3 linked regions of the Homo sapiens genome follow. The protein of the gene in region 3 interacts with the protein of the main gene of each other region in a pairwise test. Each region holds a gene or a part of one and is shown on either strand. Other genes may lie near its edges. The genes, in order: PRDM14, CIB4 and MYPOP.

Region 1 (3,652 bases), on a different chromosome or scaffold from region 3:
CTCAAACTTTTCACTATCAGAATACTGGATAGTTTTCACTTTTGCCAGTCTAATAAGCGAGAAATACCTTCACCGTCCTGATATTTTTAAATCCTTTTAGAATTACACAAATGCATGATAACTGTAAATGTATTCAAATTTTATAGGAGTATATAATATAGTGATTAAACATGACTTTTCCAGAAGCTTAGGAAGGAAGGGAGAAATTAGGACAATTTTATGATGATTTTATTCTCAGTTTTCAAAACAGGAAAATGGGCTCAAGGTCGTAGCTGCCTGAGGTAGTTCCGACAAGGCCAACAGTCAAGCAAGAATACATCTGTGCCCAAGCCTCGTCCTCCTTTTAATTAAGCCCAAGGGAATATTGTACTTTTTTGCAGCAAGCCTAGCAGAGCATCCAGGTATTTGGAATGGCTCCGTAATGTCATTACTGATTTTCTGTCTTACAAAATCCTCGGCCCACTGTAGAGGCCTTCCGCTCCTTGGAAGGACCGTGCCTTCACTTCCTTCTTACCTATACCTGTCAACACACCTGCACAGATTTGGAACAAGGCGCAGTTCCCCAGGAGCACATGCCAGGCTCTCTCCTGTCTGGAACAGCTCGACTCTTTCCTGCCCAACTAACCCTGCCACCAGTATAAATCAGACACCCCATTTGTCCTTCTATACTTGGCTCAAGGCCACCTCTGTGCATCTTTCATAATCCACGTGTCCAGGTGGCCGTGGACACTCCTTCCTCCATGTTCCTCCCTCTGTGGGTACCTGCATCCTAACACATGTGCATCGCTGTGCCTATTCACGCCTGCCTGTTCCGTAATACTATCCTCTCCTCCTTCAGAGAGGGTGTCCGTCAGGCATCACAGCCCTGCAGCTAGCACCTACAAGGCAACTCCCCGTGTTCAGGAGCTTGGGAAGGGAGAGAGAACGTGATGGTGGGTCATGTGTCCTCCTAATACTCACCTTGTGAGGCCGGTGCTTCTCATGAACATGAAGAATGTGGATCCGAAGCCGGTCCCGCTTCTCAAAGGATCGTTTGCAGAGAGAACAGGGAAATTTCCTATCGCCCTTGTCCACACAGGGGGTGTACTTGAGGTGCTTATCTCTGTAATATTTGTAGGTAAATACCTTCCCACATCTTTCACATCTGTAGCCTTCTGCAGACTCTGTCAAACACAGCAAACACAATGTCTCTTCAGTTACTTCCCTCCCTAGTTCCTTCAAGAGGATATTTATTTATTTATTTATTTTTAGCCAAGAATTCTTTGGCTACTTCAAGAGGAATTTTCTTTTTTTGAGACAGAATCTTGCTGTATTGCCCAGTCTGTAGTGCAGTGGCACGATCTTGGCTCACTGCAACCTCTGCCTCCCAGGTTCAAGCGATTCTCCTGCCTCAGCCTCCCAAGTAGCTGGGATTACAGGTGCCCACTACCACGCCTGGCTAATTTTTGTATTTTTAGTAGAAACAGGGTTTCATCATGTTGGCCAGGCTGGTCTAGAACTCCTGACCTCAGGTGATCAGCCCCTCTTGGCCTCCCAAAGTGCTAGGATTACATGCGTGAGCCACTGTGCCTGGTCAAGAGAATTTTCTTTTCTTTTCTTTTTTTTTTTTTGAGATGGAGTCTTGCTCTGTCACCCAGGCTGGAGTGCAGGGGTGTGATCTCGGCTCACTGCAACCTCCACCTCCCGGGTTCAAGTGATTCTCCTGCCTCAGCCTCCCAAGTAGCTGGGACTACAGGCACACACCACCACGCCCAGCTAATTTTTGTATTTTTAGTAGAGGTGGGGTTTCACCATCTTGGCCAGGACAGTCTTGATCTCTTGATCTTGTGATCCACCTGCCTCGGCCTCCCAAAGTGCTGGGATTACAGGCATGAGCCACCATGCCCGGCCGCCAAGAGAATTTTTAAAAACCTTTTTATTACAGAAAAATGTAAACATACCAAAGTGAAAATAATAGTGTAATAAACCCTCATGTGCCAAACACCAAGCTTTGACCAACTCGTAACTAATTTTGTTTTCATTTATATCACCGCTCGCCATAGTAGATTATTTTAATACTAATTCATCCTTTGACTCAAAAACATCTAACCGTAATCTTTAGAAGATGACATATTTTTAAAAAGCATAATTGTGACCAGGCAAAGTGGCTCACGCCTATAATCCCAGCACTTTGGGAAGCTGAGGCAGGTGGATCACCTGAGGTCAGGGGTTCAAAACCAGCCTGGCCAACATGGTGAAATCCCGTCTGTACTAAAAATACAAAATTAGCCAGGCGTGGTGGTGCCTGCCTGTAATCCCAGCTACTTGGGAGGCTGAGGCAGGAGAATCACTTGAACCTGGGAGGCGCAGGTTGCAGTGAGCCAAGATTGCACCACTGCACTCCAGCCTGGGCAACAACAGCAAAACTCCATCTCAAAAAAAAAAAAAAAAGCATAATTGTGCCAGGTGCAGTGGCTCACGCCTATAATCCCAACACTCTGGGAAGCTGAAGTGGACAGATCGCTTGAGCCCAGGAGTTTGAGACCAGCCTGGGCAACATAGTAAGACCCCATCTCTACAAAAAAATAATAAAAATTATCTGGGCATGATAGCACACGCCTTTAGTCCCAGAGGCCGAGATGGGAGGATCACCTGAGCCTGGGGAAGTTAGTTGAGGCTGCAATGAGCAGTGATTGAGCCACTGCACTCCAGCCTGGGCAACAGAGCAACACTTTGTCTCGAAAAAAAAAAAAAAACATAACCATAATGTCATTGTCACATTGTCATACCTAAACGATTAACTCTTATTCTTTTATAGAAACATATATGTACTTATATATGCACATTTATATACACACATATATATTTGTTTAATTACTTTCTGGTCAGTCCATTCAAATTAGGCTTCAAACAAAGTCTACATGTTGTATATGGTTGCTATGTCTCTTAAATATCTTAACCTATAGGCTCTCTTTCCCTTTTGTTCCTTGATATGTACTGTTGAAGAGACCATTCCACCAGCCCCATTTAAGGGCAGTGCAACCCTGCAGCTCTTGAACACATTCCTGCCTGGCACTTGTTACAAGGTTAATACACTGAGGCACTGAGGCCGACCTATTTCTCTTTGTGCCTTTAAGATCAGCCTGAGTTACAAGCTCAGAGCAGTCACCAGGACACCCGCAGCTCACAGTGCTGTTCTATTCTACACAATTCAAGGGACCTTCTTAGTTTATACTTCATTACTCAAAACTTGTGGCAGATTCCAGAGCTAGAATCTTTATGTATAGAGTAAGGTTGAAAGCATCTTGACTTCCCTAATGCACAGGGTTACCGTGATGACTAATTTAATTCTAACACTTACCGAGTCTTACCAATGTGAGTGATACTATCACTGAATGGCAGACAAGACTGAGAGGTAAATCTGTTTTTATCAATGGAGGAGGGAGGAGGAGAGAAGTTAGAGAGGGTGCAGCTAGACTCTAGCAAAGCAGGTCCCACGTCCAGGGGTGTCTATGTGTTGGGGGAAGGCGAGAGAACAGGGGCCACCTACAAAAGCATCCCTGCAGAGGACACTCTGGATCCCAGAGGATAAAGTGGCTTTGACTATGAATGCACCACAGAGATCTCATTGTTTGACCCCAGGGAGGAAGAGCAGCCAAGAGTGAGTCTATGC
Region 2 (3,652 bases), on a different chromosome or scaffold from region 3:
CGTGTTCTGGGCAGTGTGAGTCACGCAGCTCCCGTCCTTGCGGCCACAGAGGATGCAGGCACAGCCGGGCCCCCACCTCCCAGCAAGCCTCTCCTTGCTCATTTTGGGAAGCAAGGCTTCTGCTTTGTCCAGAATCGGAAAGACACAGAAGGAATCTTTAGTCCTCGCTCTAGGTCTCCAAAAGCTGGTCTGAGCACTAGGGATGAGCCAGTGACAAAGTTCTTGACAACAGGTGACAAACGGAGAACAATACGGACAAAAGGGGGTGTGTCTGAAAACACTCGAGGCTTCTTACATTTTTGTTTTAAAATTAATATTTCTTTAAAATAAAATGATGGTCACTGACAGTGGATGACATATTTTTTTTAATGTCCTTACTTGGCAAAACTGAAAGTTGGCATCTCTAGTCCTGCCTCAAAAAAAGATTTTGTTTTTGAATAAAAAGTCTGGGACCAGGCTGGGAAGTTTAGTGGGAGGGTGGGGGGCGGGGCAGGCAGGGATGGTTAATGGGTACACACAAAAAAAATAGAAAAAATGAATAAGACCTACTATTGGATAGCACAACAAGGTATTATGGTGTATATATATATATATTTTTTTTATATAGGCATTATAGTCAATAATAATTGTATATTTGGAAATAACTTAGAGGGTAATTGGATTATTTGTAACTCAAAGGATAAATGCTTGAGGGGATGGATGCCCCATTCTCCACGATGTGCTTATTTCGCATTGCATCACAACATCTCATGTACCCCATAAATATATACACCTACTATGTACCCACAAATTTTTTTGTAAGTCTGGGACATACTGTGGTAGATGGCACACCACAAAAGAGAGTAAGACCAAGTCCTAGGGCCAGAACCACAGACTCAGAGAGTGAGGAGGGCACCAGATCATCGGTCCAATCTCTTTTTGAGACCGAAGGATGCTAGAACACCCGTCAGTGACAGAAAGCGCATTCCCTCTGTGCATAGCGCTGGCAGTTAGGGAGTGTTTACTTGTATTGTGGAGAAACCTGCATGTGCTTGTACCTGGACCTATGTCTGGGACCACCTAGAGCGAGGCCTTTCCTAAGGACAGCCTTTTTTTTTTTTTTTTTTTTGAGATGGAGTTTCGCCCTTGTTGCCCAGGCTGGAGTGCAATGGCGCAATCTCAGCTCACCACAACCTCTGCCTTCTGGGTTCAAGCGATTCTCCTGCCTCCGCCTCCCAGATAGCTGGGATTACAGGCATGTGCCACCATGCCCGGCTAATTTTGTATTTTTAGTAGAGACGGGGTTTTTCCATGTTAATCAGGCTGGTCTCGAACTCCCAACCTCAGGTGATCCACCCGCTTCGGCCTCCCAAAGTGCTGGGATTACAGGCGTGAGCCACTGTGCCCACCTGTGGAAAACAGGCTCCACCCCCCCACTGCTTCCCACCCGGACTTGCACAGACAGTTTTGTTTGCTGTGCAGAAGCTCTTTAGTTTAATTAGATCCCATTTGTCAATTTTTGCTTTTGTTGCAATTGCTTTTGGCAATTTCATCATGAAATCTCTGCCCATGCATATGCCCTAAACGGCATTGACTACATTTTCTTCTAGGGTTTTTATGGTTTGGGGTTTTACATTTAAATCTTTAATCTATCTTGAGTTAATTTTTGTATAAGGTATAAGGAAGGCATCTGGTTTCACATTTTCTGCATATGGCTAGCCAGTTCTCCCAGCATCATTTATTGAATAGGGAATTCTTTCCCCATTGCTCATTTTTGTTGTGTGTCAAAGATCAGATGGTTGTAGGTGTGTGGCCTTATTTCTGGGTTCTTTATTCTGTTCCATTGGTCTACATGTCTGTTTGTGTACCTTTACCATGCTGTTTTGGTTACTGTAGCCTTATAGTATAGTTAGCTGAAGTCTATTTGCCCCTTTGCTTCTCCCCACTCCAGTCATTCCTCTTGTGATGTCACTTGCCGAAGATCATGTGGCTAGCAAGTGAATCCAAACCTAGTTCTTTCATGCCTGGCCTGGTGCCCTATCCCTAGTTCTCTAGGTGGGGCAATGGCTCAGGGTCTTCAGTTCAAAAGACGGTTCTGGCTGTTAGAGACCAGATGGAAAAGCAAGAAAGAAACCCAAGTAGAAAAAAAAAGCAACATACAAAAAAAAAAAAAAAAATCAATGGGATCCAAATCAACATGTATATATCTGCATAGAAAAAAAGTCTGGAAGGAAATAAGCCAAAATGATTGTGGCAGTCATCCCTTGAGGTAGACTAATATATCATTTTAATCTTTTTTTTGTTTTTCTGTGTTCTCTAGTTTTTCTACAATGAGCTGGCTCTTATTTGTATAATAGAATAAAATCATGACCATTTAAGATTAAATCAGAAAAGTAAAATTAAAATCATGTGGCCAAGACTCCACTTCCCAGTTGCTCTCCAGTGAGCAAGTTCGGGGGGAAGAGGGGGTCTGAGACTCCAGAAAAGGTGAAGCATCCCAGCCCCGGCCTGTGCACCTAGCCTATCTGCTGGGAAGAGCAGGCCTCACCCCACCTGCCCCATCCCAGGTCTTCTCAAGCCTTGCTGCACCCCACCCCTAACCCCAACAGGCTCCTCACCCATGACATGGAAGAGAGGAACAGGGGAAGCATAAAAGATAGTGCAGAGGACAATGGCTCACCTCCACCGGGTCCCTTACCCAGCACAAGGTGTTCATATTGGTTTATAGATGGGGGGATATACATGCAAGGAGTGTGATAGCTCCAGGCCCAGACTCAGCCCTCCTGATCTTAGTCCAGTGCTTACTCCTTTGGGGGCCAAACAGAGACTCCAGGCCCTACTGAGACAAGGCTATTGCTGGAGAAGGATGTGTTGAGGCCATGGGTCACCAACACCCTCTATGCCACCCCTCCAGTTCGGCTCCCCTTGGGCCCTCTGTGGCACCTGGAAGACCCAGGCACATGGTCACTGCTCAGCCAAGCCTTGATTAGAATAGGAGGCTCTGCCTGGGCCAGAGTTCAAGCTGACTCCCCCAGAGCAGGAACTAGTCCAGACTCTTCCATCATGTGGCCCCTTGGAAGTTGTTTCCCTCTTGGGACCTCAGTTTCCCCATTAATAAAATCAGGGTGAGGAGCATTTGACAGTGACTAGACTGGGTGGTCTCTAAGTTTCTTTCCAGTCGTAGCATTCAGAGAGTCTGGGACTGACCAGTGACCCTGCACCCACCCAGGGGAGGGCAGAAGCTTCCCATCAGCCCTGCCTGTCTGGCTGGCCCTGACCCCGGGTCCCTTAGTGGATGGCCTGGGTTTGAGAGAAGTCCCACCCACATGTGGTGGAGCCCATGCACGTGTACACATGGGGTGTGACTGTATGAGGGTGAGGCCAGGAAGTGGGGGGTGCCAGGAAGACCGCCTCCCCATTTTGTTTCTGTCACAGTCACAGTCTCCGATTCACTCACCTTTCTGAGGTTTCTATTTCTTTCCCCTCCAGAATCCCAGCTTCTCCCAGCTACCCCCACCCACCTACCCACCCCTCACCCTTTCTCATTATTTTGTCTTCTCCACTCCTGCCTCTATTTCAAGACCCAGCTTTGTGCATTTTCCTCTGTCTCTGTCTGCCCTACAGATAGGCCTGTCACTTAGGAGGGGCCGTGCAGCCGTGGCTTGAATGACAT
Region 3 (3,652 bases):
CGCCCCAAACTCACTTGCTCGGAGCTGGGCTTCTGATCCTCCCCCACCCTGCTCCTTCCTCAGCCACCCCCATCTCAGCTGATGCAGCTCCATCCTCCCAGCTGCTCAGGTTAAACACCTTCACTGTTTTGTTTACTAAGACACCATCCACATACAGAAGCTATCGTCTCTGCCTTCAAATTAAATACATACAACTTCTTTCTTCCTGGTCCCCCACCCTGGCCCAACCACCAGTATCTCCCACCAGGACCACTGCAGTCATCGCCTCCCTGAGGGCTCTCTGCTTCCACCCCTGTCCCTGACAGTATCTTTTTCCACCAGCAGCCTGAGGGGTCCAACCAAAATACAAGTCAGTTAGGCTACGGGAAACAAGCTAGTCACAAAGAACCACAGATCACAGGGGCCATTTATATGAAATGTCCAAAATAGGCAAATTTGGCCGCATGTGGTGGCTCATGCCTGTAATCCCAGCACTTTGGGAGGCCGAGGCGGGTGGATCACCTGAGGTCAGGACTTCAAGACCAGCCTGGTCAACATGGTGAAACCCCATCTCTACTAAAAATACAAAAAATTAGCCGGGCATGGTGGCATATGCCTGTAATCCCAGCTACTGGGGAGGCTGAGACAGGAGAATCGCTTGAACCCGGGAGGCGGAGGTTGCAGTGAGCCATGATCGTGCCATTGCACTCCAGCCTGGGCAACAGAGCGAGACTCTGTCTCAAAAATAAAAATAGGCCGGGTGTGGTGGCTCACGCCTGTAATCCCAGCACTTTGGGATCTGAGGTGGGCAAATCACCTGATGTTGGGAGTTTGAGACCAGCCTGACCAACATGGAGAAATCCTGTCTCTACGAAAAATACAAAGTTAGCTGGGCATGGTGGTGCATGCCTGTAATCCCAGCTACTCAGGAGGCTGAGGCAGGAGAATCGCTTGAACCCGGGAGGCAGAAGTTGCAGTGAGCTGAGATTGCATCATTGCACTCCAGCCTGGGCAACAAGAGCGAAACTCCGTCTCAAAAAAAAAAAAAAAAAAAAGGCAAATCTATAGAAACAGAAAGTAGATGAGTGGCTGCCGGGGGCTGGGGGAAGACAGGGAAGATGGGAGATTGGGGATGGCTAAGAGGTGCAGGGTTTCTTTCTGGAGTGATGAAAATGTTCTAAAATTGATCGTGGTGATGGTTGCATAACTCTGAATATACTAAAAGCCATTGAATTGTACGCTGTATTTTATTTTACTTTTTTTTTTTTTTTTTGAGATGGGAGTCTCACTCTGTCGCCCAGGCTGGAGTGCAGTGGCGCGATCTCAGCTCACTGCAAGCTCCGCCTCCTGGGTTCACGCCATTCTCCTGCCTCAGCCTCCTGAGTAGCTGGGACTACAGGCGCCCGCCACCACGCCCGGCTAATTTTTTGTATTTTTAGTAGAGACGGGGTTTCACTGTGTTAGCCAGGATGGTCTCGATCTCCTGACCTCGTGATCTGCCCACCTCAGCCTCCCAAAGTGCTGGGATTACAGGCATGAGCCACCGCGCCTGATCCTGTACACTTTATTTTTAATTTTTATTTATTTTTTATTTTTTGAGACGGAGTCTCGCTCTGTCGCCCAGGCTGGAGTGCAGTGGTGTGATCTCGGCTCACTGCAAGCTCTGTCTCCTGGGTTCACACCATTCTCCTGCCTCAGCCTCCCGAGCAGCTGGGACTACAGGTGCCCTCCACCACGCCCGGCTAATTTTTTTGTATTTTTAGTAGAGACGGGGTTTCACCATGTTAGCCAGGATGGTCTCAATCTCCTGACCTTGTGATCCACCTGCCTTGGCCTCCCAAAGTGCTAGGATTATAGGCGTGAGCCACCGTGCCTGGCCTTAATTTTCATCTTTTTTTGAGACACAGTCTTGCTCTCTCGCTCAGGCTGGAGTGCAAAGGTGAGATCTCGGCTCACTGCATCCTTAATCTCCCCAGCTTAAGCGATCCTCCCATCTCAGCCTCCTGAGCTTCTGGGACCACAGAGGTGCGACCCCACACCAGGATAATTTTATTTTTTTGTAGAGATGAGGTCTCACTATGTTCCTCAGGCTGGTTTCAAACTCCTGGTCTCAAGCAAATCGTACACTTTGAGGTGATTGTATAGTGTGGAAATTATATCGCCATATATATATACATTTTTTTCTTTTTTCTTTTTTTTTTTTGAGATGGAGTCTCATTCAGCTGCCCAGGCTGGAGCTCAGTGGTGCGATCTCGGCTCACTGCAACCTCTGCCTCCAGGGTTCAAGAAATTCTCCACCCTCAGCCTCCTGAGTAGCTGGGACTATAGGTGCACACCACCATGCCCAGCTAATTTTTGTATTTTTAGTAGAGACGGGGTTTCACCATGTTGGCCAGATGGTCTCGATCTCTTGACCTCGTGATCCACCCACCTCAGCCTCCCAAAGTGCTGGGATTACAGGTGTAAGCACTGCGCCCGGCCTTATATTGCAATATAATTGTTTAAAAAAACACAAGTCAGATATTGTTTCTATGCTCAAACCGTCCTGTGGCTCTCACCTCACTCAGGGTAAAAGCAAAGTCCTTGAGGCCTCTAGGGCCCTGCACGATCTTCCCCCATTGCCTTCCTGACCTCAGCTCCCATCCCTCCCTCTTGGGTTACCTGGCTGTAGCCACGGTGGCCTCCTTGCTGATCCTCAAACACATCAGGCCTACTTCTTTTCTTTTTTTTGAGACGGACTCTCATTCTGTCGCCCAGGCTGGAGTGCAGTGGTGCAATCTCGGCTCACTACAACCTCTGCCTCCTGGGCTCAAGCGATTCTCTCACCTCAGCCTCCTGAGTAGCTATAGCTGGGACTACAGGTGTGCACCACCACGCTTGGCTAATTTTTGTTTTGTTTTTGTAGAGACAGGGTTTTGCCATGTTGCTCAGGCTGGCCCCATCTCCTTCTTTTTTTCTCCCCTAACCCTACCTGATTCCTCTCCCAGCACTTATCTCCACCTGGCACGGTATGGCTCTGTGTCTGCTGTCTGTCTCCTCCTCCTGATGTCAGCTCCATCAGGCAGGGCTTTGTATTGCTCCCTTCTGTTTACCCGGCGCCTAGAACAATGTCCAGCACAACATTTTTTCTTTAACGAGAAAAGAACTGGGGCTTCCAGAGACTCAGCGCTGATTGGGTCCCAGGCCCCAGAGTGCCCAGCACCCACAGGAGAAAGTCCAGCCTCTTCCCACGGCTATGGGGCCTCAGCACTTGCCCCCAACTCCGCCTGTCTTCCCACATGTCGTTCCCTGGGCCAGGCTCACACTGCCTCTTGCATCAGCTTGGATGTTTTTTTGGATGTTCCTTCCTCGGGGAAGCTGGCCTCCTGCTCCTTGGCCAAATCAGATCACCCTGCTCTTCTCTCAAAAACAGCCAGCCAAAGAAAGAGAGAAGATAGAGAAAAAAAAAATAACAAAAACAAAAAACCAACCATCCAGGCCGGGTGCGGTGGCTCAGCCGGTAATCCCAGCACTTTGAGAGGCCCAGGCAGGCGGATCACCTGAGGTCAGGAGTTTGAGACCAGCCTGGCCAACATGGTGAAATCCTGTCTCTACTCAAAATACAAAAATTAGCCGGGTGTGGTGGTGCACGCCTGTGATCCCAGCTACTTGGGAGGCTGAGGCACAAGAATCG

The links.
Region 1: the proteins of MYPOP (region 3) and PRDM14 interact in binary tests that used the Homo sapiens proteins (3 or more experiments, as listed by UniProt).
Region 2: the proteins of MYPOP (region 3) and CIB4 interact in binary tests that used the Homo sapiens proteins (3 or more experiments, as listed by UniProt).

Annotation. Positions count from the first base shown.
Region 1 is NC_000008.11:70,057,680-70,061,331, forward strand, and holds part of PRDM14 (PR domain zinc finger protein 14), read right to left. Parts: intron 1,164-3,652; coding exon 961-1,163; intron 1-960. UniProt on the Homo sapiens protein: Transcription factor that has both positive and negative roles on transcription. Required for the maintenance of embryonic stem cell identity and the reacquisition of pluripotency in somatic cells.
Region 2 is NC_000002.12:26,624,262-26,627,913, forward strand, and holds part of CIB4 (calcium and integrin-binding family member 4), read right to left. Parts: intron 1-3,652.
Region 3 is NC_000019.10:45,892,555-45,896,206, forward strand, and holds part of MYPOP (myb-related transcription factor, partner of profilin), read right to left. Parts: intron 3,079-3,652; coding exon of another isoform or gene 3,068-3,078; exon of another isoform or gene 1,915-3,067; intron 1-1,914. UniProt on the Homo sapiens protein: Transcriptional repressor; DNA-binding protein that specifically recognizes the core sequence 5'-YAAC[GT]G-3'. Dimerization with PFN1 reduces its DNA-binding capacity.